4 linked regions of the Homo sapiens genome follow. The protein of the gene in region 2 interacts with the protein of the main gene of each other region in a pairwise test. Each region holds a gene or a part of one and is shown on either strand. Other genes may lie near its edges. The genes, in order: TRDN, PTPRN, PTPRT and SNX19.

Region 1 (7,027 bases), on a different chromosome or scaffold from region 2:
AATCTTGTTTCTCTCCAGTCCTCCCCCAGCTCAGAGCATTTCCTTCCTTCATTCTAGTTTCTCACACCAAAAACTTAGAAGTTATCCTGGAATTCTGTCTTTCTCTCACATCACAGCCACACTGGAAGCTTCTACTATTAATTCTGTCATTGAAATACATTCAGAATCTGATTGCATCTCACCACACACACTGTTACCACCCTGATAGAAATCATGATCATCTTTCTCTTGGATGATTTCAGTTGGCTTCATACTCATCTCCCTGTTCCCAGCCTGGCACCCTTTCAAACTTCAACACAGTAAAGGAAGTCAAATCACTTCATCTTTCTGCTCAAATCTTCCAATGACTTACTATGTTAGTCACAGTAAAAGCCTAATTAGATGTACTTAACCTTTAGGTAGTATAATACATTGATATAATTCTCATCTCTTAAATATATCAAAGAGAGAAAAATCTCTGAAAAGCTAAAATAGTTTTTAAAATTAAGGAAAACACAGCTCTAAAATTTAATTACAGCTTGATAAAAAATCAGATGCAATTTATACCATATTTCTAGATAGATCACCTCTGTAATCACATCCTAAAGGCTATGCTTGCCTCTTCAGAGCAGTTTTCATATGATTGGAAGAATAAAATTTTGGAAATCCCTAATATATTTGTTTGCATTTTTTTATGATTCAATCTTTCATTTAGCAAACATTTTATATCTCCTAGGACATAGAAAAGGGAAGACTTATAGATTCTATCCATTGAAGTTACTAGCAGTTCAAATACTTTTTTATTTCATGTACAGGGATGACTAAGATAAATCCAACCTATTCCAACTAGAGCTTGATATGATCACTAACTTGACTATTCCAGATTCTTCCTGTGGTATCACAAATTAGAATAAATGGGCCTATCAGTCTTAATTTAGCCACAACTACCTTAGTCAACTTGCAGAACTTGTTATTTGTCTGAAAACTTACAGAGTCATCTTTTCTATAATGCTGTCCCATACAATATGTGCTGAAATTATTTCTTCCATTCCTGAACATCCATAACATAGGGTTTATTTGCACTCTGGGTAACATAAATACACATTATTTTAATTCATTCCTAATTTTTTTTCCAGTGCTAACTCTTATTTGGATTATAAACTTCCCAAGGGCATTTTCTTTCTTGGCATGCATGCATATTATAGCAAGATGAAGTTTCTATTTCTGCGCAAAAAATTGTAGCCAGGAGATATTTAGAATGTTGAAATTGACATATTCTTTTTGTCAAAACAACAAATCAGTAAAAACAGCTTTTCTTAAGTTATTTGGAAATGATCACAAACTTTTTCTTTTTTTTTTTTTTTAATTACTTTTAGCAAGCTCTATTGCCAAGATTGGCTCAGATCCTTTAAAACTGGTACGTGATGCTATGGAGGAAACCACGGACTGGATCTATGGCTTCTTTTCTTTGTTATCTGACATCATCTCATCTGAAGATGAAGAAGATGATGATGGTGACGAAGATACTGATAAAGGTACAAAGAACATAGAGATATATCTAACTGCTAGGAGCAACATTAAATATGTATTATAGTGGCTTGCCTCAGTTTAAATTCAAATGAGCACTTGGGTCAAGCTAAACCAAAATGAATACACTTCTGACTGCTAAAAGCATATCAACAGGCTGCCAAACACAGTAAATTGTTCTTTATTTAATTTTCATCTTATAGCTTATCTACCATTATGGCAAAGATGTCAAAATTAAATGTTAATATTAATGTAGCATTACAGCAAAGGGAGTCTCATTATGCTCTGCTATAAAACCACAATACAAACTCACATTTATATGCTTCTTTGGAAAAAATAGTTATTTTTCAAGTTTATCTCTAGGAAGATTAAAATAAAAACAGTAAAACTAAAAATACATATAAGTGTTTTATACACATATGTCATATTTATAGTCAAATAGCAGAAAGCAATCTTACTAAAAGTACAATCAAAAGAGTAAATTTATTGGACCAAATGGTGGTGTAGAATAGAAGGACACATTCTAAATGTCCTAACAATTATGCAACTAACCTATGTGCTCTCTCATATATATTAATGAATAAAAGGAAATAGCCATCTCAAACCACATAAAAGCTGCCATTGAATGAGTATGAAAAGAACAAAGCACTGTGATTCCATCTATTAGATAACACTTTTTAGGGTCAGTCTTAGTCATCAGAAATCATGTATTCAGCCTTGACTACCAGGAAAGCTTTTATTATTAGAGTATTTTTATAACTTTTCCTGAAATTATATTTGTTTTGGCCCCAGTAAGAGTTCAACATGAACAATAGAGAGTTGAAATTAATATGATATATAACCTATAATGTATAATTTGGATCACTGCCACAATTTTATTGAATTCATAAAAATGAAACAATCTTATATAAATGTATATAAACAAACTTTATACTTAAAAACTGGAATTTGGGAAGCAAAGTAATGTAAAGACTATGATTGTTAAAACTAATAGATTTTTTTAAATAAACAAAAGGGGAAAATAATGATGTCATATTATTCTATGCTAAAATATTTTCTAACTTTGTTTTTCTTTTAATCTTGGTCTAGGAGAAATAGATGAGCCTCCCTTGAGAAAAAAAGGTTAGTTGTTTTCACCTTTGATAATAATTATTTTTCTCTTATGGTAATATTGGTTTTCAGCATGGTTCAAATATATTTTACTTATTTTAATATAAAGGTTTTGTTTAATAATTAGGTCAAGATTTATAGTCAGAAAAAAAATACTCAATTTCTTTTCCAATGAAGGTGATCTCACTACTTTTCTGTTGATTATTTTTTAAATGCCTTATTCAGTAGATTTGTATGGATTCATTTATACACAGACCAATATGAGCTGGAATTTGAGGAATGAGGGGAGAATTCTGTAGCCTTAGAAATGGCCCAGAAAATGACACCCATGATTTATTCTCACCATGGTCAGATTTATTGATTTTAAATGTTTATTCTTATTCTTTTCCTTTTATTTTTTTTGCCATCATTATTTTGCATGTTAGGTGATGACTATGGGCCAGGACAACAAGACGGTGAGGGACATAACAGCCTAGGAGGCAAAGGCATATCCAGTTGGTATGTGTGATGTGTCACTGTCATGGAGTGGAGTTACCTGGATGTGCCTGGATGTGCTGTAGAGGAATTACTTGCAGGAATAGATAAGGTGACTGAGTGAAGTGGTCACAACCTGAATGATAAGAACGATAAACCTAGGACAAAGGAGGACAGCAATGGGGCAGGAATTTCAGAAGACAGAGATTTTGACAGGAAGGGGTAGGAACTGCATCTGGAAGGGGCACTGGGGAGCAGGTAGTACCATCTTGAGGTACATTTGTTGTGAGAAAACAGCCAACATTCAAGCCAGACTTAAAACAATTGCAGTGTTTTAGTTACTGCTACACATGGGCAGGCTGTTGAGGGTTTACCCAGGAAGATAACCCTGGCTTCTGTTGCTCTCTCCTAATACCTACTGTGGATTCAAACAATGGGATCCAAACTTACAGTTTCAGCCTTCCCTGAGAAAATGATGACTACCCCACACTATCTGGGGTAAAATCCACTTAGTGTATGTTAAATTAGAAACTTTGGATTTGTAACTTACACAGCAAAAAAGAGCTAAGCCAGTCAAACTCAACTATGGCAAAGGCATCCAGAAATGAAAGTGTTTATAAAGCTCTGTGAGGAGAAAGGAAGGGTTTATACACCTGCAAATCCAGAATGAGAACTCAAGTACTCAAGACAGACTTCAGCCATCAAATCCAGGTTTAGAGATTCTAGATTTGTCTATAAACTTCAAGAGATTTATAGCTGATTTCCCATAGAGAGTGAACATAGTCAAGCTTTAAGTGAGTTATTAGTCATTATCTGGAAATAACAGCTTATGCACGTTTATTTTCATTGGAAATGGAAGAAGGGAAAACAGATAAATAATGTTTGCTCATTTATACTTATAAACTGAATTCCATAAGACTATTATAAAGCCATGTTTTTCATAAATTGATATTTACTATTTAATAAAAAATCTTTTCTTTTGATTTAAATTTTTCTTTGAAATTATTTTAAAATTAAGCTTCATATAGTAATTAGTATAAACTGCAAATTCATACAAAGCTGTTTTACTATTGTTTCTTAAATTATTTCCTTGATTCAGCAAATCAAATTTTTGCCAGAAAAACTATTAAATAGTTGTTTAGGGTACTTTTAAAAAATGTTAGAAATGTTTATTAGTCAAAAATAGTCTAAGGGATATATGTCCTTCAACACATGTGCACTAATGTCCTTAAAGATTACATACTCAGAATTAGGAGAATTGACTTTAAATCACCTGAATATATTTTCTTAATAGTATTATTCACACAGTTACATGAAAAAAATTGACATTTAAGTAAAAATCTCAGATGCTCTATCTTGGGTACAGAGGCTATGTAATAATAAACCTTAGTTGAAAGTGAATTCAAGAAGATCTATTTCATTGTAATTATTATTTTTTATGTGTAAGCTTTTCTTTCATGGAAGTATAGAGGCAATGAGAGCTTTAAAGCAGTAGGTAATATTTTATAAAACATTTATAATACATATTCTACATTTTAAGTATACTTTTAACATTATTATTGGGGAGAAATTCTATAAATTATTCTTGTCTTATAAGTTATTTTACTCATGTTTACATTTACAAATGTTGGTTTAAGAAGGAATTTGGGGGCAATGTAGAATGATAGTCTTTTAAAACATTTGATTTTTACACATCTAAATGACTCTTCATTAATACCCTTCTCAATTCATATATATTCAATAATATTTAGTCATTTTTTATTGCCTAAATTATCAGGCTGTAGCATTTTTTTATTCAACTGCCCTATATCTACCTAAAACATTTTATTTGAATACACTTAGTTTTATTTGTTGAGTTACTGCTATTCTTAACAAAATAAAAATTCAGCCAGTTTGTTATTTATGGTTGAAGTTTGCAGTTTTTAATTTGGTATGGAATAATGGTGTAGTCGACTAATCTCAGGGTTGCAGTATTGATTATTAAACAGATTATTAATATGGATGAAATATTTGATTCTGCTAGCCTGTGGAATCTGTTGTTATATATAAATATAGCTTCAGGGTATTACATGTAGTACCTAGTGTCTTTATATTCTTCATGCATATTTTTCAACTTGTCAAAATTTTAAAATACTAAGTTCTATTACTAAACACTTCATGATGAGACCCCAAGGCACTGAATCTTTAGAAAATACTATATTTTATTACATAGTTGTCTAAAAATTATAAGTATGAAAACCAAATACTGTTATAAATCACATTTTCGGAAAAAATTATTTGTTGTGTATAGTGGTATACTTTGCACATCTGGAAGTGTGCTTTTAAGCAATATTTTTCACACCAGGGTATACATCATGGATCTGTTAGCACCTCACTTTCTAAGGGGTATAAAACTGCAGAGAGATTTAAAGGAATTGAATGTCATTTGAATGTTTTCCTAAAATTGATCTGCTTGAGAGCATGCCCGGTTTATAACCGTACTATTTCCACTTCAAATATAAATAAATCTGTTGTTGGTTCTTTGTGGTATTCAACGTTACTTGGAAGGAGACAAAAAAATTAAGTAACATTGCCCCAATAAGACTGTGTGTGTGTGTGTGTGTGTGTGTGTGTGTGTGTGTGTGTGTGTGTATGTACAGATGTGCATAAGGCTTCTCAATACTTGTATCTTTAAAAGTAAAATATAGGGTTAGATTTATTGATGAACGCTGTCTCATTCTAACTGTAAAATACATTAATCCACAGATAGGTGATTTTAAAGCTCCATTCATTCGATGGCATTCTAAAAAAAATTCATTTTTCAGGTTTAATAATAACTTATGAAGATTTGCAATATATTAACCTTTAGATTCTTAGATTCTTATAGTCTAAAGGTTAATATATTACAGGATGTGAAATCACAGAATATGGAGGAAATTTAAAATTTTCAATATGTACACTTTTTTCCTTAGAGAATCATAATGTAGCTCTTGGGTAAAATTTTCGTGAGAGAGGTGGAATGAAAATATGAATTCAAAGAGAAAAGAGAAAGATGAAAACCTTCCAAATGTTAAGAAATAATTTTTTGATAAATATTTTAAGTTGATAATGACATCTAAAAATATTATAGTGTTTGGAGTCCATCAACTCAGTTTTTAAAAGGGATATGGCAACTTTATTTTTAAATGTCAACATTTACAATAATCTATAAATTATATCACTTGTAATCCTTCAACTTATGATGAAAAATTTTAGAACTTGTAGGAAGGGATGCAGAGTTTTGCAAAATTTCTAAGAAATATAAAAGGGAAAAAATTGAGCATGATTGTAATAGAAAATAAACATTTTGCTTTCTGGGTAACTCCTAGGTTTCTGAGTGAGAGCAAAGCACAGAGGTCTAAGATTCACGACGGTACAATGTATATCCTTAGCTAATCACTAATACAGAATTCGGACATGTTTTATGCCTTCTGGGATTAAACTCAATCAACAAATGTATTTTTTTCAATTAATCTTTTTCAAGTGTTTTCTATGAGCCAAGCAATGAGCTGGTGGAAGAGAACATGTACTATTTGCTTACCACATTCCCAAAGACTAATGATGAACATTTATTAAATAAAATAGTAAATGACAGTAATGGAGTTTTGATGTGGTATTGCTAGCATCAGGATCAATGCAACATGTTATTTTATAGCTTACGTAATTGCAAAGGTGTAAAAGATCACCTTACTTAGTAAAATGTCCTGCAAATACCACAGTTAAAAATTTAATGAATACATGATCAAATAAGGCAGTAAATAAGCTAGAATAGTTGGGGCATTGTATATTTGATAAAGAAGAGGGTAAATCTTTATATGATGTTATTAATAAATTGAACTGAAAGCATATGAAAATGTGAATAATAGTAATGATATCTATTTTTTAGAAATATAAATTTTAATTCCCTTAATTATTCATA
Region 2 (7,027 bases):
CTATGTTACTGCCTTCTCCACCCCAGACCGCAGACTTCAAAAAAGAGGCCAGCTCTGGCCCTCTCCCCGTTAGAGGATGGGGCTGGAGCAGATCGGGGATGCCCTACAGGGGCATCTTAGGCAAGGAAGATGCTGGGTGGGGCCAGCAACGGGCTGGGTGTGGCTGTACCTTCAGTACAGCTGGGAGCATCCCTGAGCTCAGAGCTTGTCTGCTCTTCCTCCCGCAGGCCCCTCCAGCCACCTCCTTGCTCAAGCTGCTTTCTAGATCTCGGCCACTGCCCTAGCAAGATGCCAGCCCCACCTGATGTTGATGAAGCTGCCTGAGGACATGTGCACATGCTCAGCCAGGATCTCCAGCAGCTTCACTCCTGCAGCCAGGCTCAGGGGCCTGGAGATGGGAGAAGGCAGAGGAAGGAAAGTGGGGCAACCCTCTCAGTCACTTTCTTAAAACAGGCCACTCCAGGGGTACAGAGCAGCCTGCCAATTCCCTGTCCCTGCACGTCTGGATTTCTGCCCTCTGCTTCTGGCCAGGCAGGCCAGCCCAAATCCTAGCAGACCAGAAAGCTTCCCAGGATGCAGCCCTTACTTCTGATCAGTGACGATGTAGCCATATTCCTCTGCTGCTGGGCGGGCTGAGGGCTGTCCTGCCACCGTGGGCTGGCTCTGGCCCAGTGGGCTTTTCTTCTCTAGCAGGACAGGTGTCACAGGGGGTCTGGCAGCTTTGGGAGGCTCAGAGGAGACAGGGCTTGGCACCTGCTGGACTTCACTGGAGGTAGGGCTGGCAGTGGGGTGTCCAGGCATGGGGGATGTGCGGGCTGGAAGCTCTGCTGTGTCTCTGCCCTCCACCGGCCCCTCCATTGTCTGTTCAGAAGAGGGTGGAGGTGTGGCCTCTGGACAGTGCTGGGGGAAGGGGTACCCTGGACTCGGAGCTCTCCACAGTGGAGCTCAGGACCTGCTTTTCACTTTCTACCCCCAGGGACCACTGCAGTGCTGGGTACAGAGAGGACACCAGAGCATCTGAGACAAGTAAGTGGATGCATGAATGAATAAAGGATTGAATGATTGAAAATGGTCTGTACTAATCCACAGAATGGGGCTGGAGACAGAAAACCCCTGCAGCAAGAGAAGCTGGGGTGAGGGTAAAAGACAAACAGGCAGGCGATGGTTTCTAGACTTTTGTTTAGCCACAAAGTCTTAGAAATCCAACACATGAAACAGAAAGAAGCAGAGCTCCTCCTGCTACAGAAGCTCAGGAAGGGCTCTCTGCTCGAAACTTCCCTCCTCCCCTAGGAATCCTCAGAGCATGGTCTGAAATGATTGTAGTGAAAAGAGGAATGAATTAAGAATTCAGTTTTCTGGCTCCAGTTCTGCCATCAACTTGATGGGAGACCTTAGGCAATAACTTGCGGTCTCTGGGCCTTGGTTTCCCCCAAAATGAGGGGTGGGAGGATACAGATTCTAGGTCCTGAATTTGAAATTTAGGTTTGGCAAGGGGGCGTGCTGCCATGGGGTGATTATGAGTCAAGGAGGTGCTGGGGACTCACTTTCTTGATATCAGCTCCAACATTTACAACCCCTCCTGCGAGACAGGAAAAACAAGAGTCTGGAAAAATGGCCATGGCCAAGGTCTACACAACACAAGTGGGAGAAAGGGCCAGAGACCCTGAGCCTGGAACATTTGCTGTGGTCTTCATCTCAGTCAGTGACCAAGACCCTGTTACTGGTCTCATCCTAAGCCTGGCCTCATTCCTTTTTGCTTCCTCCTCCCAATTTACTGTTTTATTAACTCCTCCCTCTACCATTGGCCATCTCTCTCAAAGCTATTCTTTGTTCAGTTATTTCTCTACCCATCAATTACTGGCTTCTTCTTAGTACTGGCTATGCCCGTTTTTAGGCCCTCATTGTCACCAACCCATCCTTCCCGATGCCTCCTTTTCCCTGCTCACACCCTCTGTTGGCTGCTTTTTCCATTACTTCCACCATCTAGTCTTTTCCTGATCTAACTCCTAAGCTTGCCACCCTACCCCCTTGCTCCCTGCCTTGCTGGCAATGACCCTATGTCTCAAAGGAACTCTTTCCCCTGAAGCCTGACTCTTCCTCTCCAGGCTACTCCAAGTGGTCTCGAGGCAGGGCAAGAGGCCTCCATGGAGCCGGGAGATATTGGTCCCTCCCTCTGCCTGGACACTTACCCGGATTTCTTCCTGCACCCTTGGGCAGTAGCTGCAGCAGGGTCAGGAGTGTGGAGAGCTGCTCAGGGGTCAGCTGACGCAGCTCTACCCCATAGCCCGCCAGCACAGCGGCCAGCCTCTGCAGAGCCGCATCTGCTGGGAGCCAGACACAGAGCTTAGGGCTGATTGCGCAGTGAACTTGAGGGATGCAGATGAGTGAGTGAGGGTGGGAAGGGACTAGCATGTTAAGAGAGTCTTCCCAGACACCAGGACACCAAGAGATGCCCTCCCTTTCCCAGCCCTTGTCCACACTTTGGGGGAAAGTTCTTCCTGGGACCCAGATCAAACTTCAGGACATCTTGACTCTCCACTGGAAGGAGAGTCACGTCAACTCCACTCCCCACCACTTCCCTAGTGCCTGGCATAGAACAGCTTGTCAGTAGACATTCCTTAAATGTATGAATGACTTTAAGGACAAGTTAACAAACGCATAGATTGTCAGGGAAGGGCCCCACCATGGTTCCCCCAAAGCAGCCCTCACAGGGAGGTGGATGCTGAGGACCTTGTTACCTGGCTGCACAGCTGGGGAAGCAGGCTTCTCTCCACGATCCCCTAGTCCTTCCTTCTCATAGCCCTCTGGGGAGTCCTCTGCCCGGCTGCTGCTCCCTTGCTCTGGCAGCCTTGGCACCCTGGCCCTGCTGGGTGCTGGCAACTCCTGGGCCAGATAGAGCAGCCCAGAGTCTTGAAAAAGCTGGGCAGGTGAAGGCCCTGGAAGGTCCCCGTAGGAGTGGCCAGGGTGGTCCCCAAATATGCCCTTGGAGGCAGTTCTGCTGAAGAGGGCAGGGGCTTCAGCCTTGGGCAGGGGGCCGACACTGACCATCCCTGGGGAGCCCTCTGAGACCCTGGAGCCATCACGGGAGCCAAACTGTGGAAAACCAGAGATCTGGGTAAGAGCAGAAGTCCGGGCTGAGGGACTGCGGTTGGGGTGGGACCAGAGTCAAGGACTTACCTGGTGGAACAGGTAGGGCTGCAGCAAGGCAGGTTCGTAACTCAGTGAAGGGTGGGGAGGCTGTGGGGGCAGCAGCAGGTGCTCCAAGAGAGGCGGGAGCAGCTCAGCCTGCAGAGGGGACAGAGAGGAGCTGGCCCCAGCTCCACCTTTGCCCACTGGTGGTTGTGGAAGCCGATGCTGGGCAGCAGGGGCGGAGCCAGTGGGGATGTCCTGTAAAAGCAGCTCTCCAGCAGGACCAGGTCTCTTGGGTGCCAAGCCAGACCTGTAGAGGAAAGCAAAGTGTGTGTGTTGGAGCGGGGGAAAGGGCATAGAGAGCCTGCAAGGCAGAACTATTCGGGGCCAGGCAGGCTCAGCGGTTAAGAGCAGGCCTGACCTCTTTAGAAACTGAGTGACCTCAGGGGAAGAGAGATGGGCTGGGTGGGAATGGGGAGGGACCAGAGGGCCAAGCTGAGGGCAGAGGTATCTGCCTCCCTGGTGAGCATGGCTGAGTCTCTGAAACAACTGCAAAGGCTGGGTAATCATGAGGCTGGGGATGGAGAAGGGGCAAACAGGAGCAGGGGAAGGCAACCAGGAATTTCTCTAGATGAACTGTGGCTGCAGCTGTCCCCGTTGCCCCTGTGTGCCATGTCCCCACACCTGGCTCTCCAAGTATATGTCCAAATATTCAGGACTGCTCCTCCACCCCCCACCACTATGCCATCTTCATCCTGGTATCATCATCTGAGCTCCCTAAACCTCATTTACTTTCCTCTGCTTTGCAGTCTGAATGATGCCTTTAGAGGCCCTAACCACAAAAAGATGATGGTGGCTCCTGTCATATAGAAATTCACATAGTAATGAAATGGAATATTGAACAACTTCAGTCCAACAGCATTCTAATTTCTCCCATGATGACTACATTGATGCTTCTTTTAAAGTAGCCAATGTCAATGTTTTTCAAAACATTCAAAAAATGCCCGTTTTTCTGGATCCCTAGAGATGAGCTCAGCTCCTCTTGGTCATGTGAGCATGTCAGAGAGTGACCATTCCTGCACCTCTTTACCTGTGCCCCAGCATGCTGGCCTTGGTGCCCACTTCCTTCCCCTTCTCTCCATCAATTAGGACAACCACAGATTCATCAGCCTCACCATTGCTAGAGTTGTAGAGAAAGGCTGCCTACCTGTCCCTTGGACGGGGCTCTGGGGGGCGAAGCCTGGGGATGCGCTCCATCTCCTGAGAGATCACATACTGGGTGAGGTCATCGTGCCAGGACAATCCTGTCAGGAAAGAGGACAGCGTAAGTTGGTTCAGGAGTCTGGGGATCCAGTAACGGGGACCACTGGGGATCAGAACTGTACCCTCTGCCCTGCAGCTCATGGGGTTTGTCAGAGTAGAGGGACAAACTCAGTGGGTGATCTGAGCTGTCTTCTTCCCACCCTCAGGTACAGCTATTGGAGCCAGACCACCTGGGTTTGAATCCTGCCTTTGCTACTGATGAATTATGTAACCTTGGGCAAGTTGCTGAACCTCTCCAAGCCTCAATTCCCTCATCAATAAAATGGGGATTTATACCTCCTAGGATTGTTATTATCATTAAAATAACACATATACATATCAAACGGTTAGAATAGTGCCTGTCATGTAGTGAACTTTTAACAAATGCTATTACCATAATTATTATTACTATTGTTATTATTCTTTGTGTTGACCCTGAACCTCAACTTTCTCTGTTTGTAAAGTGGAAACGATACATATTTCAGGGGGCTGTTGTGAAGATCAAGTGTGATCAGGGAAATCAAAGTGCTTAGAAAACTCTAAAGCATAATCCACATGTTTTAAACATGTATCATCATCTTCATTGTCGTCATCATCATCATCATCACCATTATCATCATCATCTTATTCATAGACAGCTCTCCTGTTTGACTCTTTCCCCCAAAAAAACTCTGCTCTCAGGAAAGTTCAGTCACTTATTCTAAAGGAATAATTTCCCACTTTTCACCCTCATTTTTTCTTCTCTAGTTCTGGATTTAAAATCTGTGCTGCTCTTAACTTGTATTCTGGTATCTACCAACATCCACACCTGCCTCCTTGCTTATTCACATTAGATGAGCTGTCTGTGTTCCTATTTAAAGCCAGTTCCTCTGAGCACTAGATTTCATCCCCTCTCACCTATTCAGGAACATTCTCCTTGCAATTCTCTCTTCTTTCCTACATAATTTCCTTTGTTCTCTACTGAATTATTCACATTATTCCCATGCAAACAATATGCAATTTCTTCCATCTTAAGAAAAATACTGCTTGATCCCACTTTCTTCTCTAGGGATCACTCCATATCTTTGCAGCAAGACTTCTAGAAAAAGTTGTCTATACTGACTGTATCCAATTCCTTTCTTTCTATTCCCTCTTAATCCACTTTATTCAGGATTTTATTCCCAACTATTCTACCAAAGCTGCTCTCATCAAGAGCAGCTTTGTCTGCATGTCCAAATCTAGTGGTCAATTTTCATATCTTATTTTACTTATCCCGTAATCATCATTTGACACTGTTGGTCACTCCTCCTCCTTGATACACTTTCTCCTGGCTTCTGGGACACTGAACACTGTTGTTTTTAATCCTACTCCACTGGCTTCCCCTTCTCAGTCTCCCTGAGAGGAAGTTGATGGTTCCTCTCTTTATCCTGGTCCTCATTTTTTTTTTTTTTTGAGATGGAGTCTCGCTCTATCACCCAGGCTGGAGTGCAGTGGTGCGATCTCGGCTCACCACAACCTCTGCCTCTCAGGTTCAAGTGATTCTCCTGCCTCAGCCTCCTGAGTAGCTGGGATTACAGGTGCTCGCCACCATGCCTGGCTAATTTTTGTATTTTTTGTAGAGACAAGGTTTCACCATGTTGGTCAGGCTGGTCTCGAACTCCTGAGCTCGTGACCTGCCTGCCCCAGCCTCCTAAAGTATTGGGATTATAGGTGTGAGCCACTATACCTGGCCTGGTCCTTTTAATAGAAGAATTATCTAGGACTTGATCCTTGGTCTTCTTAATAGACACTCAATCTTTTGGTTATCTCATCCACCTCATGGGTGTAATTACCATCTATATGCCAAAGAATTCCAAATTTATATCTCCAGGTGAGAACTCTGTCTCTCAGAATCCAGTCTCATGTACTCAACTTCCTGCTTCACTTGAGTAGACATCTTAAACTCAACATATTCAAAGCTGAACACCCCCACCAAGTTGAACCATTTGCAAGTTTCCACATTATAATTAGTGACATCTCCACTGATTCAGTTATTCAGTAAATAAAACCTTTGACTCCTGGCTGAGCGCGGTTGCTCACACCTGTAATCCCAGTACTTTGGGAGGCCCAGGCAGATGGATCACTTGAGGTTAGGAGCTCAAGACCAGCCTGGACAACATGGTGAAACCCTGTCTCTATTAAAAATACAAAAATTAGCCAGGCATGGTGGCGCGCACATGTAATGTCAGCTACTCGGGAGGCTGAGGCAGGAGAATCACTTGAACCTGGGAGGTGGAGGTTCCAGTGAGCAAGAGATTGCATCACTGCACTCCAGCCTGGGTGACACAGCAAGACTCTGTCTCAAACAACAACAACAACAATCAACAAACAAAATAAACCCAAAAAAACTTTGACTCCTCTCTTTATAACCATATCCAATATTTCACGAAATAATGCTGACTACCTTAAAAATAAATGCAGAATTCTCTCATCCTTCATTCCTTCCCTGCAATCACCTTGGCCCCATCCACATTCATCTCTTATCTGAGTTATTGTGGTAGTTTTTGTTTGTTTGTTTTAGTAAAGTGAAAGCAGTTTATTAGAGAAGTGAAGAAACAAAAGAATGGCACTCCATAGA
Region 3 (7,027 bases), on a different chromosome or scaffold from region 2:
TAAATTTGTATACGAGGTGGCACTGGAATATTTAAGCTCCTTTTAGCTCAATGGGATGGGGAACCTGCCGGAGTCCAGAGGCTGCTGTGACCAAGCCCCCTTTTGTGTGAATGGCAGTAACTGGGCTCAGGAGCTCTGAGGTGGCACCCTGCCTGACTCCAAGGAGAAGACTGGTGGCCCTGTGTTCCACGGGGGGCTCTGCACCTTCTGAGGGGTCTCCTGTTGCCGTGGGAGATGCTGCTCCAAAAGGCCCAGGCTTCCTTTTCAACCTAACCAGCCACAGCCAAGGGCCCAAGCAGAAGTACACCCACAAGCAAGGCCTTGGATTTCTGGCTCCCAGACCACCTGCTTTTGTTCTGAGTTTGTGGATCTCTTGGCAAGCCAACTGTGCAGGTGCTGGGGAGTGGGAGGCTCCCCTGCCCTCCTTCTCCTTAGGAGTGGAGGAGATGTGTGTTCTGCTCCTCTACGTCATGGAAAAGATTGAGGCTCTTGGGGGTCACTGCTCTGCTGCCCCCTGCAACCTCCTTCAGGGGCCTCTGGCACCAGACATTTGCAGTCTGGACCAGTGTGACCTTACGATGTTCCCTAGGCCACAAGAGAGGCCCCCCATCCTCACACCTAACCTGCATGGGGCTTCGCCCACAACCATTCTGTACCCCTTCCCCAGCCTGGGCCTTGACCGTCCAGCATTCACTGGCCGGCCAGCTGTGTCCACAGCAGTTTTTGATAAAGGTGTTCTTTGCTTTTTTGTGTGGTCAGTGGGAGGGGGTGGAACTGCAGGGAACTTCTCTGCTCCTCCTTGTCTTTGTAAAAAGGGACCACCTCCCTGGGGCAGGGCTTGGGCTGACCTGTAGGATGTAACCCCTGTGTTTCTTTGGTGGTAGCTTTCTTTGGAAGAGACAAACAAGATAAGATTTGATTATTTTCCAAAGTGTATGTGAAAAGAAACTTTCTTTTGGAGGGTGTAAAATCTTAGTCTCTTATGTCAAAAAGAAGGGGGCGGGGGAGTTTGAGTATGTACCTCTAAGACAAATCTCTCGGGCCTTTTATTTTTTCCTGGCAATGTCCTTAAAAGCTCCCACCCTGGGACAGCATGCCACTGAGCAAGGAGAGATGGGTGAGCCTGAAGATGGTCCCTTTGGTTTCTGGGGCAAATAGAGCACCAGCTTTGTGCATAATTTGGATGTCCAAATTTGAACTCCTTCCTAAAGAAACCCAGCAGCCACCTTGAAAAAGGCCATTGTGGAGCCCATTATACTTTGATTTAAAATAGGCCAAGAGAATCAGGCCTGGAGATCTAGGGTCTTGTCCAAAGTGTGAGTGAGTCAATGAGAGGGAACCAACATTTGCTAAGTCTCTACTGTATGCCAGGGATCATGCTTGGCACTTTCCATAGGACATTTCACACAGTCCTTAGAACCCCCAGGAGAGAGCTACTGACTTGTTATCATCTCCATTTGATCATCTCCTCCAATGAGGAAACCCACGCACCTTCCTTAGTAATGAAATCCTGGGTTCCAAAGGGGCAGGTAATGGCAATGAGACTTCTCCGTGCTGTTTTCTTCATCTTCTCTAAGCCAAGCAATTATTTTATGGAGGGAAAATAAGGCCAGAAACTTCTGAGCAGATAACTCCACAAATGGAAATTTAGTACTTTCTTCCTGATGCCAGTTCTTCTGGGAAGCGCAGAATTTCAGATATATTTTAGTAACACATTCCCAGCTCCCCAGGAAAGCCAGTCTCATCTAATTTCTTAGTCAGTAAAAACAATTCCCTGTTCCTTCAGGCTATGAATGGACCAGCCAGGGAAACTCTCGACCTTGATCTCTAGCCAGTGCTTAGGCCCAATATCTGACAGCCTCAGGTGGGCTGGGACCTAGGAAGCTCCATCTTGAAGGCTGGTCTAGCCCCAGACAGGGCATGAGGGGCAGAGAATTCAAGAAGGTACAGCTTTGGCCCTCAAGAGCCCACTGTATGCTGGGGAAATGGAACCATGGTGCAGTAGTGTGGAGTGGATGAGTGTTCCATGAGCCTAGGAGCAAGAAAGTCTCTTCGGCCTCGGGCTTCCTGGAGAAGGGGACGTCCATTCCTGCTGGGTCTTAACAAGCATAAAAAGGAAAAAAAGGAAACTCAGGCAAAGGGATCCATATGTGCAATGGCAAAGAAATGTGAAAAGGCATTGGGAGAAGCAGTCTGGGGGAGGCCAGCCCAGTGCGGGCACAGCACAACACGGGGAGCAGCAAGAGATGAGCCAGGGTCCAGGAGACAGATGCCCATCGCGAGTACAGACTTTGTCCTATTGGCAACAAGGAGTCCATGGAGCTTTAGAGAGATGCACTCAGCTTCGTGTTGGCCAAGACTCCTTCTGGGCCAATGGGGCTGCCTCTTTTCCTTTCATCAGACACTGTGAAAACATTCCCTTAAGCGTGCACTTTTTAATATCACATCTATTTGTCTGTCTGCTCATTGTTTTGTTGCTGGAACTAAATATGCAATGGATCATGAGACTCAGATTCTATGAGAAACCCAGGGTCTCTGCTTTACCACGGAGCAGGGTCACCAACCCAGATCTCCAGGCCCATGAGGATGGAACATGAAAGGAGCCGACAAAAGTTGCTTCCATTGGCATGGGCTCTGGAGCTGTCCAGAAGTCCAGGGACACCAGACTTGATCAAGGAAGGGCTGTCACTTTAGAGGTTCAAAAGGAAGTGCCTCAAAGCAAAGGCAAGCAAAGGAACCCCACGATGAACTTGCTCTTTTCCTTTGATGAGCCTCTCCCCAGGTGTATTTCAGCAGACCCCGGGGACCCACCCCCACTGGGCCTGCTGGCCTCCCTCGGCTCCAGCCCAATGCCCCAGCTGGCCTTCCCCAGCCTGCAAGGAGCCTGTAGCATGGCAAATCTGCCTGCTGTATGCTATTTTCTTAGATCTTGGTACATCCAGACAGGATGAGGGTGGAGGGAGAGCTATTTAACACAAATCCTAAGATTTTTTTCTGCTCAGGAAGGGGTGAAATAGCTGGCAGATACAAAAGACAGTGGCTTTTATCATTTTAAATGGTAGGAATTTAAGGTGTGACTTCAGGGAGAAACAAACTTGCAAAAAAAAAAAATCTCAGGCCATGTTGGGGTAACCCAGCAAGGGCCAGTGATGATTTCCCCCAGCTCATCCCCTTATTTTCCCACAACCCAACCATTCTCTAAAGCAGGACAGTGAATAGGTCTTAGGCCAGTGCACACAGGAAGAAATTGAGGCTTATGGATGGGGATGACTTCCCTAAGATCCCATGGGACAAGGATGTGGCAAGGCTTGGATGAGATGGGGCACCAGTGCCCAGGAATTTGAACATTTTCCTTTACCCAGGAAATCTCCGGAGCCAACACCACCACCCCCAGGGGGTCTCCCCACCCCACCCCATTTACAGGGTGAGCTCAGCCTGTCATGAGCAGAGGAAAATATTATTAATGCTCTCTGAGTCTTTACAACAGGAGCTCTTACCTCATAGATGTGGGCTCTGTTTGGGGAAGATGCAAGGAAGTAATGAGAAGCCCAGGAAATTTCTCCACCTGTGTTTATGGCCTAAATAGCTTCAGGATGTATCTTAGCTGCACTCCAACATTGCATCCTTTCTGGGGTGAAGAATCTGGGCCAACCAGGGGTCCTTGGGCCTCTAGAAGGCCACAGTAGGCCTCTCTTTGTGGGAATGGAAGGGGACAGTTTGCTTTTAGTGCTGGCCCTCTCTGTGGGTGTGGCCTGCAAAGGAACCAACAGACCCTATGCTGGGGACTCTAACATGTGAGCTCATTAAATTCTTCCAGCATTCTAAAGGAGGGTTTGTGATTGTCACCATTTACTGATGAGGAAACTAAGGCTCCTAGGGGAGAAATCACTTGCCCACAGTTCCACAGCTAGTGAGTGAATGAACCAGGATTTAAACCGGTTTTTTCTCACTACAGAGACAATATTTTTCCACCATTGTATCTCACATTTTTCCCAGGAGGTTACCCATAACAGAAGAGACTAGAGTGGAACAGATACGTCAGTGGATAAAGCTCAAAGCAAACAACAGTAAGCTTAAAATTCCTTCATAGTCTCATGTTTTACGTTCACAATTCATGCAAAATTTGCATTCCACTTTCTGATTTAGCCTTGTTGGTTTTAATATGACTCTATGAATATTTCAAAAAAAAATGTGCTCTGTTCCTCATGTTGTTCTGTTCTGTTCACCCCGCTATGACGGACCCTAGGTCAGCTGGTCTTCAGCTTGACCCTAGAATTGACTCTAGGAGCAGTGACCCTGCTGCCTCCCAGAGCCAGTTATAGGCTCAAGATCAAGACCAACTGACCTTCTCCTAGGCAGCTCCTTTGGTGTGTGGGTGCTCTGACCTCACTGTTCATGAGGGGACCTCAACTAAGGCATCTTCCAGTTGGGTGCTGGAAGGAACCCATTAACTCACACTAGAATGATGAGGATTTGCTCATCTGGCGTGGAGAAGGATGAGCCCACAAAACCCTAAAGGGAAAAGAGAAGCTGGACACAGCTGTACTCAGCAGATTCCTGAATGCTAGGCTGGAAAGTGGTGCCTGTTGTCCAAGTGGAGTCACATGGTTGCTAATGTGGGCAAGTCTGAGGACACACTTCATGAGCAGCTGGGGTCTGGAAGGCTCCTCACTTTACCCTAGCCACACATAATTACTGGGTGCCTACAGCACCTAGCACCTTGGAGGGGGCACTATTAGGAAATCGAGATTACTATGGCACAATTAATTCCTGGGTAAGGCATGGGGTTGTGGTGGACAGAGCTCAGTCTTTAGTTTGAACGAAAACATACATACATGAAAAACATACATGAAAAAAGGACCCTCATCAACATTAGAAGGGGTAGATTTGGAGCACTTTAGGCAGGAAAACAGGAACGCAAGGCCAGGAAACTGGAACCCAGTGAATACTCAGAACCGAGGATGCAGATGACTTATTTAGCAAAATGGTCACTTCTGTGACATAGCTGGAGAAAGGATGGGTAACAGCTTGCCAGAGCCACTTGGAACAAGGGCAAATCTCAGTGTCTGGGGCAAAAGATGATGCATTTCCCTCTGACCCATCATGTTTATTCATCCTCCACTCCCCATTGCCACACTAGCTCTTGCTGTAAGTCCTCACCAGGATCTACATTTCCTCGTCGCTGGTGGGAACCCCTTAGAGTACATAGAGGTATCAGTCCAGTAAGACTGCTCTACACAACAGAAGTGAGGCCCAGGGAGTAGCAGCCAGGCCCTTATCCTGTTACCTCTGCAGGAGTGACTGCCCAACCCAGATCCAGAGACATTGAAGGAAATGATAATTCCTTGGTACCTCACTGCCTTGGGACAAAATGAAGAAAGCCACCCTTCCTTAGGCTGCAGCTTGCCACTCCTGGGCTGGGTAAACAGGTCATCAGCACCAAGCTCAACCAGGAGTAACACTCTGGAAGACATGGGTGAGCCCAAGAGGAAGCATGAACAGGACGCTGTTCCTAAGTCATGTCAACAGGTTGTGCTGGGCCAGGATCCCCAGGGAAAAAAATGGTCAACCCAACTGGAGGGTAGGTTAGAAGAAAAAAAACATAAACGTGGATAGTCATGTCATCTCAAATCCCTGACTTGGCTTCCCCATTACTTAACAGTCTGAGCTCCTTCTTAGCCTGTGACCAGCTTCAAATCACAGCCAAGTAAAACAAGGAAATAGGAAAAGTAAATCCAACTAGAAGAGACAAGCTGAGATTCAGATTTGTTTACTCCTCCCATGCAAAGTTTCCCTGTTGGAGGTTTTCCATGTATACATGTCTAGAAGTGATAGAATGCAAGGCCTTGGCTTTGTCTTGCAGGGATCTGCCTTTGAGGTCATAGACTGAACAGCAGGGAGAGAGGTTAGTGGTGGAGTGTGGGGGGAGCTGTTCTAGCTCCAGTTTCTTCTGACACATTTTTCAGGATCATGGATCTGATCCTCCGAAGCACAGCAGAGATATCTAAGCCATATTTGTGCACATGAGCAGACTCTTCTAGTTTTTTAGTAACCAGGGATGGGCTTTTGCATGGCACTGACTATAGAGATGTCTTGTAGAGATCAAGCCAGTCTTTTGCATCCCACCTGCCCACCTCCAGAAGAGATGGGAAAAGGTCATCAAAGGGCATTCACCAACTGAAATCCACTCATGAATGTTAGGTCTCTAAAAGGAGGCATCAACACTCACAATGGTAGCCTCCAAACCTAGCATCCCACCTATCTAAGAGCTCAGGGGTGGTCCACTGGGGCAGATACAAGGGAAGTGCAAGGGCTCAGGATGAAAGAAAATCTATTGGGAAGAGTTTTAGGGGCTTGATCATTATGGGGCTTCCTTCTATATCTGAGAACTGCTCTGGGTGGTGAGATGTGGACTCTGATCCTTAATTGGAATGTTCGGAGAATGAGTGTCTGGTGGCCTTGAAGTGTTGGACAGAAAAGTATCAGTATAAAAGCCTGGAGCTCAGGGTAATTAATGTAGTTCATGGTTCCTTAGTGAGCAGGACTCTTGGATGTGGAGGAGAAAGGGTCATAGGAAGTAAACCACCAAAATTACAAAATTGAGTCTCTGTACAATTACTTCAGTGCCTTTGGGCTTATGAATACAAATCAGTGGGCCTTCTCTATGATGGTCCAACAAACTCTCAGTGTCCACCCTGTCCCTGTATCTCCCATGGAAGATGAATAATGTCAGGTGTTCTTTGGGTCAAAGGCCCCAGGGCAGTCTGGAGGCTTAGAGGGCAGAGTGGTGTCATTCCATGTAAAGTTAGGCTTCTGAGGGGTCAGGCAGAATATGGTGTCCATATCTTCCATAGCTCTGCAGATTCTTGGATGAAGTCAAGCACAGTTTGCTAGACCCAGGTCACTCCTCTGAGTATAACTAGGACCCATGAGTGAAACTTAATAGCTGTAAGGAAGAACCTGCTGTCTGCCAGAGAGGATAAGCTGCCCATCTCAGCAGCTGTCTAAAAGAAGGCAGGTGTCTCTT
Region 4 (7,027 bases), on a different chromosome or scaffold from region 2:
ACCACTTAGAGAAAATACTTTTAGCATAAAAGCTGGAGATCCAAACGTTGATTAAGTCATTTAGCAGGACATTTCTGACTTCAGAGAATATCTCAACTACCTGTAACTGCAGGACCAACATCTCAGATATTTTTGCCTCACATTCTCTGGGTTTTGGTTCTTACCACATTGCCTTCCTGGAGACAATAAAGAATCTTGTCTTGTGCTTCAGTCACACTTAGTGCTGGAGAAATTTTACTGGATGAGAACCTCAGCCTAGACCTGGTACAGAAACAAAGAGCAGAAACAGGTTGTAATTTATGGCCTTGAGCCTCACACTAAGGGCTGGCAAGTACTGATAATAAAACACAACAAGAATATCCATACTTATTCTGGGGAGCTTACTGTGGTCAGAGCTGCCAGGAAAGACTCGGCCCTGCAATCCCCCAAACAATGTATATTCTGGCAATTCTTGATAGATAATGTTAACGCATACACTAAGCTATGTCTACAGTGCACTTGTGAAATGGTTTCTGCTAAGTAAAACTGGCATCAGTGTGTATTATGGTTATATTCCCACAGGATAGATTAGCTAACACATAATAGGCACTCATTAAAAATTTGCTGAAGATTAAACAGACAGGTGGCATAGAGCAAGTTTTCATTATTGCTATTCATGGTGTATCCTTTTTGGACATCCATTTTTTCCCCTTGTGTTCCAAATAAAACCAGAAAAGGAACTGCAAGTGATAACATCAATGTTTCAAGGGACAGAGACTCATAAGCAGAGGTATCATGGTCATCCCTCAATATATGGGCCCAGTTAAGAAAAGGTTAGGTACTGTGAGTCTGTTATTGCTGGCCCATGAAACATAAGCACAGAGACAGAGACACACACACATACACACATGCTCTCTCTTTTTTCATAAGGACCCAGATATAGATGAAATTTCCAGTAAGGGTACATGTGGTGCCCTTGCTTGCCACATGTTGGCTTTGAATGCTGCCAGGGAACAGCTAGGGCCCTAGTGCAGGAAAGAGTAGCAGTAGTCAACCAGTTACTAAAATAGGCCCTGCAGGTTTCCATTCTAACCCTTTCCTCTTTATTGCTAATATATGCAACTTCTGAGCCAAGATTTCCAGAAATGATGGCAAACAGAGATCAGTTATAAGCCTTAATTCTTAGTAGGAAAGAAACATCTCAATTTTCCAGGAAAAGAGGAAAGAGAATATCCTAGTCAAAAGAGAATATTCTTCCTAGTCAAACATCCCTGGTCAGTTGGGCCCCAGGTTCCCATGGCAAAACCAAACATTCAGCAGTGCTGCCTCTGCAGCACCGCAGGCTCCTCCGGGTGGAAAACTGAGGAGCCTGGGGTCTAGCTTTGCCTAAAAACTGGTATGTCTGACCCACCTCCTTTCCTCTAGGGCTTGAGAATAGGGTGAGTGTTGGCTGAGGATTGGGGATCAATTTGAGAACTGGGGAAAGGTCCCTGGGTAACTGAGGGCTTCTCACTTGCTAGCCTTCTTGCCTTCTGTCTGGGGCTTGCTTTCGGTCTCGGCCTCACTCAGCTCCTCTGTGGGGCTCTGGGGTTCAGAGCGAGGAAACGCTGTCTTCAAGGTGTCCACAATGGCACTCACCACCATCTGCAGGGGTCAGAGGTGCAGGGTCAGTCCATCCACATCCACAGATGGAAACCGCCAAGCAAGCAGTCGCCTCACAGCACTTTATGCAACAGGACAAGGAGAGGGGCCAGGCTATCTAGCAAAGCCTTATCCAGTAGGAAGGTCGAATACCAGCTAATGACTTAGTGCCAACTATCTTTCCTTTTTTCCATGGCCATAAAAATCTTTTTCCTTGAGGAGTAAAACAAACAACGCCATGGGAAAAGAAGCCAAAACCAATAGTGAGAGAAATAAAAACCTGAGTTCTGCGGGCTGGTGATGTATTTTTCAATTTCTTTCTTTTTAAGTAAAAAGGTGATTTCTAGTTTCCAAATCGGTAACACCTTCATCAAGATGTGCATCAGTGGAAGTACATAGGTAGGAGTATAAAGAGAAAGGAAAAGTGAAGAAGATGATCAAAAATAAAAATAACAGTTAAGGGGCATAGTAATATTAACATGCTTAGAGTAACTTACACAGAGCAAACAATCAGTTTTTCTAGTCAATTCAAACAATTTCTCTTCTTTAGGTACAGAAAGAATAACAAAGATCACTCAGGTCAAAACTAAGATATCTGGAGTTGAGTTGTTATAACTTATCTACTCATACAAGACCAAATAAAATAATCCTCACTAAAGATTAACTCCATTTCTTCAGAATGGCAAAATGACATACAGATATTTGCTAAAAAGGACAATGTACAAACAAAACCTTAAACTATCAAAGAAACAGAACGAAACATTTACTCTTCCTCTGGTGCTTCTTGCTAACTAACACTGCTGGCTCAGAGCAGCACCATGCCTTCTTTGACTCATTCTTGTGGTATTCCTCCATAAGGAGTAAGCTAGCATAGCCAAGACAAGGCTGAAGAGAGTGGTCAGCAGACTACAGTAAAGACTGGGGGAGAACAAACCAGGGAAAGAACACTTGAGGATGCATGCATTTAGATAATGCAGCTTAGAAAATACAACTTGTTCTCCAGGATCACAGAACTGTAGTCTGTGAGGGTGGGGAGGTCCTCATCTGTCTCATTCACTGATGTATGAACAGCAGCTGGTAGAGTGTCTGGCTGAAAACAGGCATCCAGTAAGTAGATGTGGAAATAATGGATGAATGATATCTGCATGGAACTCTGGGCATTTACCCAGTTGATCCCTTTTTAGTTTGTAGTTTTTTCCATAGCAGTGGATATCCCCTAACACCTACTACATGAAATTCTATTTTATTTGTTGCTCCAAGCCTAGATGAGAAGAGGGAGGCTACTCTTCCGCCAATGTGTCAGTGTTTCCCAACCCTATAAAACACACATCACTTTTGATAAACATAAGCCTCAGACTTCTGCCCCAGAGATGCTCATATCAGTTGGTAATCACTGCTTACAAGCTCTGACATGTTACACAAATGTCCTTCTTCCACCATCTCCATAGGTGCTGAGATAACCTCTTGAAAAAGATACAATTCTCTCCATACTCTGTTCTCTAGCGGAGAACCATGACACCACTCTAAATCCAGCCTCAGGTCGTCTTAGGCTCTCTTTCCTGGGTGACCCAACACTGGAAATGAACTTTACCCTCTGAAAGACCACCCCTCATGCCAGCTATCTGTGAAGACACAGATCAATCTTCACATGCCTCCAACAGTACAACAATATAATGATACCCCCAGGAGATATGTGTACACTTAAGAGTGTTGGGGTACTGTTTCCCAGCAGCTGTTTCCTGTGATTCAGCAAGCTGATGATTCAACCAATATTTGGCAACAGGTCTTGACAATTTAAGTCCATGTTCTATTGACGGCTCTGTGCTGCCCCTTCCCACACCCTACTGCTCTTATTTTTCAAGGACTGCCTCCATTCTGATGAATCCTCCCCATTTATAGATCAAAACTAAAGCTGAGCACAGTGGCCCTGCTGGTACCTTGTCTATTCTAGAGACCATAAATGGTTTCTTGACAAAGGCAATACGAGCATCTGTGTTCAGAGCAAGGAACTCCTGCACCTCCTCACTGTTAGCGATCTCCGGAATGGCACAGAGTTGCTGCAAAAGTAAAACACACACACATTTTAAAGAGAAATTCCAGTCCCCAAATCTCTCCACCTTGGCTTGGGTGTTCTGGGGTTAGACACCCAGGTTAAAGTGAGAACAAGGCCAAAAGAGAAGGATGCTGACCTTTAGGAATGATTCTAGGAGGCTCTTACGGGCTTCTACTCTGTCACTGTCCATGTTTCCCAATGGAAGATCTGGAAAGAGCTTTTTAGGACCCTTCACATCTTCCAAAAAAAAAAAAAATCAAAATATTCACTCATTTAACATTCACAGAGAGCTATTCCATATAAAACATATAAAGAAAACAGAACTATTGAATATATTTCCTTGGATTAAAAAAAACAATTTCAGGACTTCCAAATATACATACGATCCATATGATCCATATAACACTAAATTGTTACAAGAGAGGGCTCTGAAGTCCAGAGACCCAAGTTTAAATCTGGGCTCAATCCCTACTATAATGATGATCTTAGGCCATTTGTGTTATCTTTCTGACTCTGTTTCTCTTCTACAAGATGAGGATAATGAGGGCACCTATCTCACAGGCTGACGGGAGCATTAAAAGAGCTAATACGTGTAAAGTGCTTAGGAGAGAACCTGGCGCATATTTTCAAGCTTGGCTCAGTATTAGCTATTGTGTTAAGAAAGAAAATACATAATTTATGCCCAAACTTATTCAACTATTTGGGTAATCATTTTTAAAAAACAAAGTAACCAGTTACTAATCCTTAAGAGTGAAATTTTATTACATTAAAAAATATTTGGCTGGGCGTAGTAGCTCACATCTGTAATCCCAGCACTTTAGGAGGCCGAGGTGGGTAGATTGCTTGAGGTCAGGAGTTCAAGACCAGCCTGACCAACATGGTGAAACCCCATCTCTACTAAAAATACAAAAATTAGCCAGGCGTGGTGGCGGGCGCCTGTAATCCTAGCTACTCTGGAGGCTGAGGCAGGAGAATCGCCTGAACCTGGGAGGCGGAGGTTGCAGTGAGCCGAGATTGCACCATTGCACTCCAGCATGGGGGACAGAGCGAGACTCCATGTCAAAAAAAAAAAAAAAAGGTTCCCCATGCCTGAGAGTTGTCATAACAGCACACAAAAGATCTGGGTGTTAAGGAAAGAAGGTGGCAACAACTTCTGTGTAATATTTTAATATTTAAGAACCACCAATCTATGAATCTGGAAAAGTTAATTTAACTCCTCACACCAACTTACAGGCACAGGTGGAAATGTGAACACTTATTTTTTAATCTTAAACTAGATGGGGCTCCAGAACAAAGCAGTTGGCAGTAAAGGACTACCTCTGAAAGAATGTGATTGCTGCTGTCCAGCACTAAACTTCAAAACTCCTGAAGCAAATCCAGGGAGCAGAGAACCTTGAAACGGCATTCTCCTCCCCGATCCCTCCCATAAACCAACAGGCCAATCAGCGTGGCTCGACGTGGGAAGCAAGCGGGCAGTAGGGGTTGGGGAAACTCCTGACTTTTGATGAACTTTCGTAGATCTGGTTTCTCCTCCAGACGGGTCTGCAGATTCAAGAACTCCCGATAGCGACGATTCACAGTGTGGTAGGCCAGCTGCTGCAGGCCGCTGCTGTTTTCACCGTCAAGGGCTGTCTCGTACTGTTCAACGAACAAATTGATTGACTCAATCAGCCGGGTTTCAGCAATCTTCTATTCTGGCTTTACTGACTACTTGGTCAATGGCCACATAGCAAGAGTACGAAACTAAGAACAAAGGGAGGGAGTATGTTCCTATTCTGTTCCAGAACCTCCTATATCTAATTGCTTAGAAAGTCAGAAATGAGTTTCACTCCTCCGCACTACTACTTTCATCTGAAAGCTCCCTCTCCCAGATACTTTCTTGACTTATAAAAATGGCTACATAACTGTTTTTCAAATGAATATTTGAATAGAAGGCATAACATCCATAAAAATGATACTGCCTCTATCACCTTTAAATTACAGGGCTAAACATCATAAGGGGCAAACCATTTTTCCATTATACTCTCCCGTGATTATTTATATTAGTTAAGGGAAGAAGAAGTAATCCAAACAGCAGATATAAATCATTTGTTTATCTGGAATAAATTAAAGGGTATTTGTTTTGTTTCACGCAGATTAATTTTCCTAATTGTTATTCTTAGAGCTAAACTGAATTTTTCCTAAGTACGTATCATCTGTATCACAGAAGTCACATGAAAATTGGAGATGTGATAAGGGGTCAAAGTCCACTGTCTTCCTAAGCTTAGAGGGCTGGTATGTGGAAAAGACGACTTATATCTCATGTTCCCCAAAGAGTGAATACCACGGATGGCATGGAATCTGCAACTCAGCATGGGGGCACACTTCTTGACAGGGTAGTTAAGACACAATGAAACGCTGTGGGAGAAGTATATATGTGCGCCTTCTCATTAGGAATGGGCTATTATTTTTCGGTTGAGGTATACTGTGGGCAAGAGGTGGAAAAAACTACCTCCTCGTTGGTGGGAGTTGTGGCTGGTGCTTTACAATTTTCTGGAGACAGGGTATTCATTATGAGCTGATGTGAGCAAAGCAGTCCCTCAGAACAGCACTGAGAAGGAAAGACCAAGTAAGAGCAACAGGTGGCATTCAGGGTGGGGCTCTCAAGCCTGGAGCATTTGGAACTATGAGGCTTTCTGTGGAATATGCTGCTCCTCGAGGGCCAATTTTCAACACCGTTATGGTTACTTCCATCACATAAACCGAAAACTATTTACTATCAGAAAGTATAATAATATTGATATACAATTTAAAATCAGTTATATGTCCATATAAAAATCTAAACCCAATTTCAAACTACTCATAATTGGCTATATTATTTCGTTCTCATTTTTTACTTTACTCTTTTCTAATGCTTAATTGAAGCAGTAGCAGATGTCAAAATCTAGCCAACAACAAAAAAGAACAAATAATGGGAGAAAGACTGGGAACTTAAACATTCTATCCATCAACTTAATTTTTCTGCTAATGAGGAGGGAAAAAACCTGCTGTTTTATGTCAGTATTGGAATAGTCATTAAAAAAAGATGAAATAACCAGAAGCCAACACTTAAATGTGAGAAAGGTGCATGGCATAGGGGCATCCAGAATTAGAACAAAAAGGCAGGAAAATGTTAACAAAGTTATACCAGTCCTTTGAGGCTAGTCTCAGTTATTTTATGACCAGACATCTGTACTTCTACAATTTGCCTATAATGAGTGTGTGTCTGTGTGTTCACCCATATGCATTTCTAATTACTTCCATTCCGTCTTACTTGAAAATGTCATAATGTTACTTTCTAAAATGCTATGTCATGATGCAGCTGTGTTGAGCAGA

The links.
Region 1: the proteins of PTPRN (region 2) and TRDN interact in binary tests that used the Homo sapiens proteins (3 or more experiments, as listed by UniProt).
Region 3: the proteins of PTPRN (region 2) and PTPRT interact in binary tests that used the Homo sapiens proteins (3 or more experiments, as listed by UniProt).
Region 4: the proteins of PTPRN (region 2) and SNX19 interact in binary tests that used the Homo sapiens proteins (3 or more experiments, as listed by UniProt).

Annotation. Positions count from the first base shown.
Region 1 is NC_000006.12:123,542,941-123,549,967, reverse strand, and holds part of TRDN (triadin), read left to right. Parts: intron 1-1,355; coding exon 1,356-1,514; intron 1,515-2,595; coding exon 2,596-2,628; intron 2,629-7,027. UniProt on the Homo sapiens protein: Contributes to the regulation of lumenal Ca2+ release via the sarcoplasmic reticulum calcium release channels RYR1 and RYR2, a key step in triggering skeletal and heart muscle contraction.
Region 2 is NC_000002.12:219,299,399-219,306,425, forward strand, and holds part of PTPRN (receptor-type tyrosine-protein phosphatase-like N isoform 1 precursor), read right to left. Parts: intron 4,434-7,027; coding exon 4,337-4,433; intron 3,440-4,336; coding exon 3,178-3,439; intron 3,094-3,177; coding exon 2,739-3,093; intron 2,322-2,738; coding exon 2,190-2,321; intron 1,580-2,189; coding exon 1,545-1,579; intron 862-1,544; coding exon 587-861; intron 389-586; coding exon 302-388; intron 1-301. UniProt on the Homo sapiens protein: Plays a role in vesicle-mediated secretory processes. Required for normal accumulation of secretory vesicles in hippocampus, pituitary and pancreatic islets.
Region 3 is NC_000020.11:42,073,898-42,080,924, reverse strand, and holds part of PTPRT (receptor-type tyrosine-protein phosphatase T isoform 2 precursor), read left to right. Parts: coding exon 1-46; 3' UTR 47-7,027. UniProt on the Homo sapiens protein: May be involved in both signal transduction and cellular adhesion in the CNS.
Region 4 is NC_000011.10:130,906,461-130,913,487, forward strand, and holds part of SNX19 (sorting nexin-19), read right to left. Parts: intron 5,312-7,027; coding exon 5,173-5,311; exon of another isoform or gene 5,079-5,172; coding exon of another isoform or gene 4,991-5,078; intron 3,911-4,990; coding exon 3,810-3,910; intron 3,678-3,809; coding exon 3,558-3,677; intron 1,986-3,557; exon of another isoform or gene 1,901-1,985; intron 1,624-1,900; coding exon 1,493-1,623; intron 262-1,492; coding exon 165-261; intron 1-164. UniProt on the Homo sapiens protein: Plays a role in intracellular vesicle trafficking and exocytosis. May play a role in maintaining insulin-containing dense core vesicles in pancreatic beta-cells and in preventing their degradation. May play a role in insulin secretion.